2 separate regions of the Homo sapiens genome follow, and region 1 is linked to region 2. The links come from fine-mapping of genetic effects on gene expression. A gene starts in region 2. The other region holds a variant in brackets. All regions are shown on one strand. Distances are between the middles of the regions.

Region 1 (4,000 bases), 250 kb before region 2:
CTCAAGTACCCAGGGACACAAACACTGCGGAAGGCCGCAGGGTCCTCTGCCTAGGAAAACCAGAGACCTTTGTTCACTTGTTTGTATGCTGACCTTCCCTCCACTGTTGTCCTGTGACCCTGCCAAATCCCCCTCTGTGAGAAACACCCAAGAATGATCAATGAAAAAAAAAAAAAAATAGTGGCCTGTTGGGAAATCTACAAGAGACTGAGGAAGCAAGTCCAGTGTCTTTATTCTTTATCAGAGGAGGTATCAAGTCCAAAGGGAGGGAACCTGGAGTGGGAGAGTAGACCTTGTGGTGTGGCCCAGGGGCACTAGGAGCTGTAACGTCTCACTCAGTGTCCTTCAGAACTTTCTCTGCCTCCACTTCCGGGGTTGCTGGAAACATGTCTGCCCAAGGTCATAGCACAGTCAGAGAAAGGCTGGCACATCTGGGCCAGCCACAAGCACCAAAAATAAAAAGGGAAGTGGGATGTAGAGGAAGAAAGTTAAGCTGGAAACATTTTTTTCATAAAAATGCTAATGCTGTGAGGCCACCCAGGACACTAATAGAAGGAGATGGAGGTGAAATAAAGAAACGAGTTTCAGCTGTTTTTAGGAAAGAAATACTAAAGAGAAATAATTATTAGATCTAAAGATGCAATAACCAGAAAGCCCCCTCTTGTGGGAAGAGAAGGCAGCCTTTTCTGAAGAATTGAAGTGGTCAAGAGAGGATATTCAGTGTAATTCTGGGAGAGAAAGGAGGAACATGAGGATTCAGAGATGTGACATAAGAGTCTTAGAGAACTTCAAAGTGAAAAAGCAGAAGTGAGAACTGACTCGGGGAAAGGAATTGATAAACAAGCACGCTTAAACAGGTGTGGTCCCAAGGAGTCCATGGAAGGCCAGCTTACTTTAAAAAAAAAAAAAAATTTTGTAGAGATGAGGTCTCACTATGTTGCCCAAGCTAGTCTTCAACTCCTGGCCTCAAGTAATCCTCTCTCCTCGGCCTCCCAGCTTACTTTTATAAATACAGTGCAATGAATAATAAAATATAGAAATGTTTGGTATATGTAGCACAGGAATTCAGAAAACAAAGCCCCGGACTTTGAGACCAGTCTGGGCAATACAGTGAGATCTGTCTCTATAAAAAAATTTTAAAAATTAGCTGGATATGGTGGTGTATGCCTGTAGTCCCAGCTGCTTGGGAGGCTGATGTGGGAGGATCACTTGAGCCAAGGAGGTTGAGGCTGCAGTGAGCCAAGATCACACCACTGCACTCCAGCCTGAGTCACAGAGTGAGACCCTGTCTCAAAAAAGAAAAAAAAGCCTGAATAGTGCATATTAACATGCTTTGAAAAATCGAAAGTATTATAAAAATTGAAGATGTTGTTATTACACAAGTTATGCACTGTTCTTGGGTGAGTGACTAGCAGTCTGGCAGCAGCACTTCTAACATATTTTCCTAGAGAGTTCTTTTTTTGTTTGTTCTTTTTTACAGTTCTGAAGTAAAACCATGGTTTTTGTTTCAGATAATATTTTATAAAAATGGTGTCAATCAAGGTGTGGCTTACAAAGATATTTTTGAGGGGGTTTACTTCCCAGCCATCTCACTGTACAAGAGCTGCACGGTACGTACATGTTTCCATCCCATGAGCAAAACTTGAGGGAAGCAGATGAATGGGTTGTGATGACAAAGTTACTGAGTGCTGGAACGAAATCCAAGCAGCCTCAGAGTGGCATGCGCATGTGTTGTTACCATTACTGTTTAGTCCAGAAACAGTTTGGGCATCTTAGGGAGTATTTGCTGGATAGAAAAAGGTCCTGCAGTTTGTGTGCGCCATACTTTTCCCTTGAGCACGTGGTGTGGTGTTACCGTTCAGTAGGAAGGATATAAATACACATACACAAATCCTCCTGGGATGTCATGATAACCCACC[A/G]TTATTAGTCATTGTTGCTTACAATGATTTTTTTTTTTTTTTTTTTTTTTTTTTGAGACAGTGTCTCACTCTGTTGCATAGGCTCACCATAGCCTTGACCTCCTGGGCACAAGTGATCCTCCCACCTCAGCCTCCTGAGTAGGTGGGGTGTGCTAATTTTTTGGTTTTTGTTTTTGTAGAGGCAGGATCTCACTACATTGCCCTGGCTGGTCTCAAAGTCATGGGCTCAAGCAGTTCTCCCAGCTCAGCCTCCCAAAGTGCTGGGATTACAGAGAGGCATGAGGTACCACATCTGGCAAGTTTTTTTTTTTTTTAAATATGATCCAAACATGAAGAAGGGTACTATCATTAGGGCCTGTTGGTTTTAAAAATATATAGGTAGATAGGTAGATAGATACAGATATATAGAAAAGTTGGGGCTGGGTGCACTGGCTCACGCTTGTAATCCCAGCACTTTGGGAGGCCAAGGTGGGTGGATCACTTGAGGTCAGGGGTTCGAGACCAGCCTGGCCAACATGGCGAAACCCCGTCTCTACTGAAGATACAAAAATTAGCTGGGCTTGGTGGCACATGCCTGTAATTCCAGCTACTCAGGAGGCTGAGGCAGGAGAATCACTTGAACCCAGGAGGCGGAGGTTGCAATGAGCTGAGGTCGTGCCACTACTCCAGCCTGGGTGACAAAACGAGACTCTGTGTCAAAAAAAAAAAAAAGAAAGAAAAGAAAAGAAAACTTAGGCCAGTCGCGGTGGCTCATGCCTGTAATCCCAGCACTTTGGGAGGGTGACTCAGGCAGACCATTTGAGGTCAGGAGTTCAAGACCAGCCTGGCCAATGTGGTGAGACCTCGTTGCTACTAAAAATATAAAAATTAGCCAGATGTGATGGCCACGCGCCTATAATCCCAGCTGTGGGGGAGGCTGACGCAGGAGAATCACTTGAACCCGGGAGATGGAGGCTGCAGTGAGCCAAGATTACACCACTGCCCTCCAGCCTGGGCAATAGAGTGAGACTCCGTCTCAAAAAAAAAAAAAGGGCGGGGGTGGCGCTGGGCACAGTGGCTCACGCCTGTAATCCCAGCACTTTGGTGGGAGGCCGAGGTGGGCAGATCACGAGGTCAAGAGATCGAGACCATCCTGGCCAACGTGGTGAAACCCCATCTCTACTAAAAATACAAAAATTAGCCGGGCATCGGCCGGGTGTGGCGGCTCACACCTGTAATCCCAGCACTTTGGGAGGCCGAGGCGGGCCGATCATGAGGTCAGGAGATCGAGACCATCCTGGCTAACACGGTGAAACCTCATCTCTCTAAAAATACAAAAAAAAAAAAAAAAGAAAAAAAAAAGCTGGGCCTGGTGGCGGGAGCCTGTATTCTCAGCTACTCAGGAGGCCGAGGCAGGAGAATGGCGTGAACCCAGGAAGTGGAGCTTGCAGTGAGCCGAGATTGTGCCACTGCACTCCAACCTGGGCAACAGAGCGAGACTCTGTCTCAAAAAGAAATAAAAAATTAGCCAGGCTTGGTGGCACGCGCCTGTCGTCCCAGCTACTCAGGAGGCTGAGGCAGGAGAATTGCTTGAACCTGGGAGGTGGAGGTTGCAGTGAGCCAAGATCATGCCACTGCACTCCAGCCTGGTGACAGAGCAAGACTCCGTCTCAAAAAAGAAAGAAAAAGTTAATGCATGAAGATTTCCATGTACTTTTAGTCTGTCAGTAGGCACCATTGAAGCAGGTAAAAAAAAAAAAGGAAATCTTTAAACAGTGTAAACCAAAACTATCTGAGACAGATCTCAATCAATTTAGAAGTTTATTTTGCCAAAGTTAAGGACCTGCCTGTAAGAAAAAAACAGAATCACAGAAACAGTCTGTGGTCTGTGCCTTTCTCCAAGGATGAATTTGAGGGCTTAAAAGTTTTAAAAAGAAAAAGGGCTGGACGGAGTGGCTCACGGCAGTAATCCCAACACTTTGGGAGGCCAATATAAGAGAATCAGTTGAGCCCAGGACCTCGAGACCAGCCTGGGCAACATAGCAAAACCCCCTTTCTACAAAAAAATACAAAAAATTAGCCAGGCGTGGTGGTACATGCCT
Region 2 (4,520 bases):
GAGAGGATGTTGCCATTTAGGTAGGTTAAATGTAGTTCAACTGGTTTGAGTCCACCATATTACAATGTTAACAGGCCTTCTTGGTATTAGAGAACAGTTTCAATATCAATGTGATAGGTTAAAGTTTGGATTACTCCAACTGCTATAATAAAAACAAAAGGTCACACACACATTTAATCCAATATGAAATAAAATAGGCTCTACTTAACACCAATGTATGTTCTGTAAATTTGTCAGGATTTAAACCTTAGAATAGTAATTATTTCAAATTGTACAAGTAGTTACAGTTGAATATATTAGTTACTGTAGTTTCCTGAGAGTCAACTGAAGTTTCAATCAAAAAACGAACAAACAAAACAACAACAAAAAAACCCTGGCATCTCAATGAGACTCTAAGAACTGCATGCCTACTTCACAGATCATTGCACTGTGCTGAACTGGCATCTGGAGATTGTATTGAGCCAGCTACATGAAGGCAAAGAGAAGAGATGGGGAAAAGAGAGTTTATTTAAAAAAGAAAATACTATTCTTAACACACTCATCACTTAACACGCTCATCACCTATAAGCAAGAGCTATCAGAAATACTATTTAAAAATACATACATTTCTAATTTTTCAACATTCAAAATACAGCAAGCCGATAATCTACCACAAGCAGAGCTTCCTACCCCTTTCACCCGGACACAGCGCTTTGCCAAGAGCACAGGCCCAAGTAAAATAACCGATGCAATTTCCTTGTTTACTTAAAGAATTGCAGAAAACATGTTGACTGCTTCTGAGGCTTCCGAAACAAACGAATTTTCAATACGTAAAAGACTTCACGATCATGTTTGATATGTAAGCGTAGTAATGATTCCTTCAGCTAGTAAAAATCTAGTTTTAAATTGATTAAATGGGTTAAATTTACACTGCAGCTCATTAGCATACCTTGTTTGCAACCAGAAGGAAGAGGGTAAAGAGAGGGAGAAAAGCATCAAAAAGGTAGTGATGGAAAACATCACTACCTCCTTTGGCGGTTATGAATAATTTAAAATGACCCAAGACGTAAGGGGAAAAGAGTTCATGAATAGAAAGAAAGGGGGCTAACAGTCTGAATTGGCCCCTTCCAGATTCATACTGATGTCGGAGAGGAAAAGGAATTTATTTACACTGCAGTGCCTTGGCAGCAAACATGGCTGCCCCTGCCCCCTTTAAATCGAAATAATCTTCACTCCCTCCCCAAAACCATCAAATTATGGCCATGTCTCTCCCTGCCTCCCTTCCATAACACAAACACATCGCCTTCTCCCTCAAAACAGTAAAACCCACACCTCCCCATTTCACAACAATCACAATCCCATAACCACCAGCTTCTCTATTCTCTAGCCTTGAAAGAAAGACACAGAATACACACAAATACAGGAACAAAAGGCCTCCCTTCCTAACACTTTAACGACCTCCATCCCCTTCTCTTCCTCCCACTCTGACGCTAAGTCGATCGTTCTCATCCCTGTCATCATTCAGTTAATTTCCTTCCCTAGCCCAATCCTGTCTTCCAGTTTCCTGCGTCTATTTCCCATTCTCCTATTGCAGCCTGCCTCATCCCCTTTCCTAATCCACCTTTTCCTTCACTTCCATTCCTCATTTCTCCCTTCATTCCCATAAAATGCCCCATTTCTCCAGCAAATTTATCCCCTTCTCCCAGACTCTTCTGGTTCCTACACTCCATCCCCAAATCTCCCTATTTATCAGTCCACCCAGGTCTGTAATCTCCATGCAACTCTTCTCCCCTTTCCCTGCCCCTCCCCGATCCATCCTTATCCCCGCCCCCATCCCACTTTCCCAATTCCCAGCTCAGCGCCACTCCGACTCCCATCCCACTCCCCACCTCCCCTGGCCCACCCCCCAATTCCCTCCACACCCCCCACCTTGCCATCTGCTCCTCCGTCAGGACTCCCCTCGAGCCCTTTCAGGCCACCCGCTTCCCCTTCCATTCCTCCTGGGGTCTGGCGCTCCATCCCTAGGTCGCCCCCTCCCCGTCGTTCCCTCCTCAGCCCTTCCTAGCACTACACACGCGCGCGCGCGCACACACACACACACACACACACACACATACACACACGCACACGCACTTTACCTTCAGTTTGTTCCATTCTAACCCCCCGGCCGTGTCAGTGCGATCACAGGAGAGACACGGAGGCCCGGAGTGGGGCTGGGGTGCGGGCAGCCGCTGGGGCCGCGCGAGGAGGAGGCGGAACCGAGCTAGGCCGCATGAAATCCCCGGGCTAGATTTTCCCCGCGCCGGACGCCTCTGCCATGGCGGCCGGCACTGAGGAGGGCCACGGCCGGGCCGGGCCGGGCGTGCTGCGGGAAGAGGAAGGCTCGGGAGGTGGGATGGGAAGGGGAGGCCGAGGGACGGGGGTCGCCGCGCCGCCGCTGCTGCCAGAGAGGAGCCTGCGGCTGGCAGCCCGGCCTGGGTAGCACGGTCCTCGGCGCTCGGCTCGGAATTCGCACGCCTCTCCGCGGCGACCTGTGCACAGCCCCCTCGGCCTCCGCCTCCGTGCTGGCCGCCGCCGCCGCCTCTCCCGCCGCCGCCGCGCACAAAGCCCCCCCACCCCGACTCTCGGGGCGCCGCCGCCGCCAAATCCTCAGCCCCTCATTGGCCGCGGGCCGCGGCGCCTGCCGGGAAATGCAGTCCCTGGTTCGGGACGCTGGGGCTCCGGAGGAAGCGGCGAGTCGGCGGGGCGGAGGGGGCGGGAGCGCGAACCAGGAACGCCCGCGGCAGCTAGCGTCTGGACGACTAGGGAGACCGGGCGAGAGGGCCGAGGAACGAGGGACGGGGAGGGACTGTACGTGGGAGAGTGACACACAAAACACCCCGGGAAGCCGGAGGAGGCGTGGAAAGGTGGGGCCCGGGAGGTAAAACTGGGATCGGCGCGTTCAGTGAGGCTGATTAAAGAACAACGCGCAACCAGCGCCATACGGCGCTCCTCAGGGTGACTCGGCTCTCTAGCTCTTAAGGGTTAGAAGCGACCCTCGCACGGTCCCCGGTGGGTCACCGCGCGAGGGCGGGGCAGTCCAGGCGACCCCTCGGCCGTCTCCCGTCCTACGGCTGTCAGGGAAGGGCTCCGGTTCCGGTAGGGTCTGCATTTGGAAAGCCGGGGGCGATGCAAGACCGCCTTGGCGTCGTCTCCCTCTCAGCCCCGGCTGAGCTGTCGGATGGTCCCCCTCCCCCGGTTGCAAGCAGTAGGAGACCCGGCCGGCGGCGCCGGCTCGCCGAGGGAGCGCCTCGACCTCCCCGGCAGGCGCCGGCCCCGCGCGCCTCTTCCTGCTCTGCTGCGGCCCGGAGGCTTGTGGGTAACCGGGAGGACGACGTCAGCGCCCGCCGCATCCCCGGGTGCCCCCCAGCCGCGGGGGACCGCGACGGCTCCGTGACCGTCACGTGCCGGAGGCCGCGGCTGCTCGCGGCCAGACCTTCGCATCGAGGGACGTGAGGGACATTTGTCCTAGAGGGCCCAAGATAAGAACGAGAGGAAGAACCGGGAGGCAACTCTCCGTCATCCTCTAGCCCCCCGCATCCTAGGAAACGTATGGAAAACAATGGAAGGTTAAGTGTGTGCACAGTGATCTGGCCCTGCAGGAGTGTGCCGACCAGGTGATATTTCCTGGGGCCTGGTGATAAGGATTTGGAAGGTTACAGCACAGAGACGTGAACGTAAAAAGGAAACAGAGGCAGCAAGCAAATGAGGAAACCGATACTCTGTTCTGAGAATAAAGCCATTTTACCGCTAGACGTCATACTCTGTAGACGTTATAGTGCTGGATGTCTTTGGTACTATTACAAGAAATTAGATATCTCTATCTTTAAATATCACTTAAGGAAATTAAATGATTTCTACAGATCAGTTATTTAAAAGGGCACTAATTATGAACTATTTTTTTTAAACGTAACCCGGTTAATACTAGATACTGAGAATTATCAGTATTGGCTGGGCGCAGTGGCTCACGCCTGTAATCCCAGCACTTTGGGAGGCCGAGGCAGGCGGATCACGAGGTCCGGAAATCGAGACCATCCTGGCTAAGACGGTGAAACCCCGTCTCTACTAAAAATACAAAAAATTAGCCGGGCGTGGTGGGGGGCGCCTGTAGTCCCAGCTACTCAGGAGGCTGAGGCAGGAGAATGGCGTGAACCCGGGAAGCGGAGCTTGCAGTGAGCCGAGATCGCGCCACTGCACTCCAGCCTGGGCGACACAGAGAGGCTATGTCTCAAAAAAAAAAAAAAAAATCTCATTACTATTAATCATTAAATATTTTTAAACGTATGCTTTAAGTAGTACCACAAGTTACAGCTATCAGTAAAAGCATACTTTTTATTTGTGATATGACATTTTAAAACACAGATGGCCAAAGCGGGCCACCAAGTCTAGCTTAATTCTATCTCCAGGAAAGAGGGATTAAATTGGTCTTTTTTTTTTTTCTATGAGCCTTTCTACCTCCATTCTTCTTTTTCTTCCTCCTGTGTCTTCCTTGCTTTGTTGAT

Direction of the effects. Positions count from the first base shown, and alleles are read on the strand shown. Sizes are in standard deviations (SD) of each study's normalised expression.
For the expression in putamen of the gene that starts at base 2,590 in region 2, allele A in region 1 goes with a higher level than allele G (small effect, 0.33 SD a copy in GTEx).

The links. PIP is the estimated chance that this variant, and not a neighbour inherited with it, causes the effect.
Region 1: its variant is fine-mapped to the expression of NSD3 in putamen (GTEx, PIP above 0.99).

What each region holds. Positions count from the first base shown.
Region 1 is chr8:38,134,157-38,138,156 of GRCh38, forward strand. ASH2L (ASH2 like, histone lysine methyltransferase complex subunit) reads left to right here. Exons shown (of 16, transcript NM_004674.5): 14 at 1,512-1,610. Among named protein-coding and RNA genes, the nearest start is that of STAR, 15 kb to the right of the region's middle. RefSeq lists an enhancer at 1-548. The variant A/G (reference allele first, on the strand shown) is at 1,920.
Region 2 is chr8:38,379,682-38,384,201 of GRCh38, forward strand. It overlaps NSD3 (nuclear receptor binding SET domain protein 3), which reads right to left and starts at 2,590. Exons shown (of 24, transcript NM_023034.2): 1 at 2,118-2,590. It also overlaps a transcript of LETM2 not described here. RefSeq lists enhancers at 1,113-1,647, 1,938-2,728 and silencers at 2,377-2,776, 2,807-2,956, 3,147-3,496.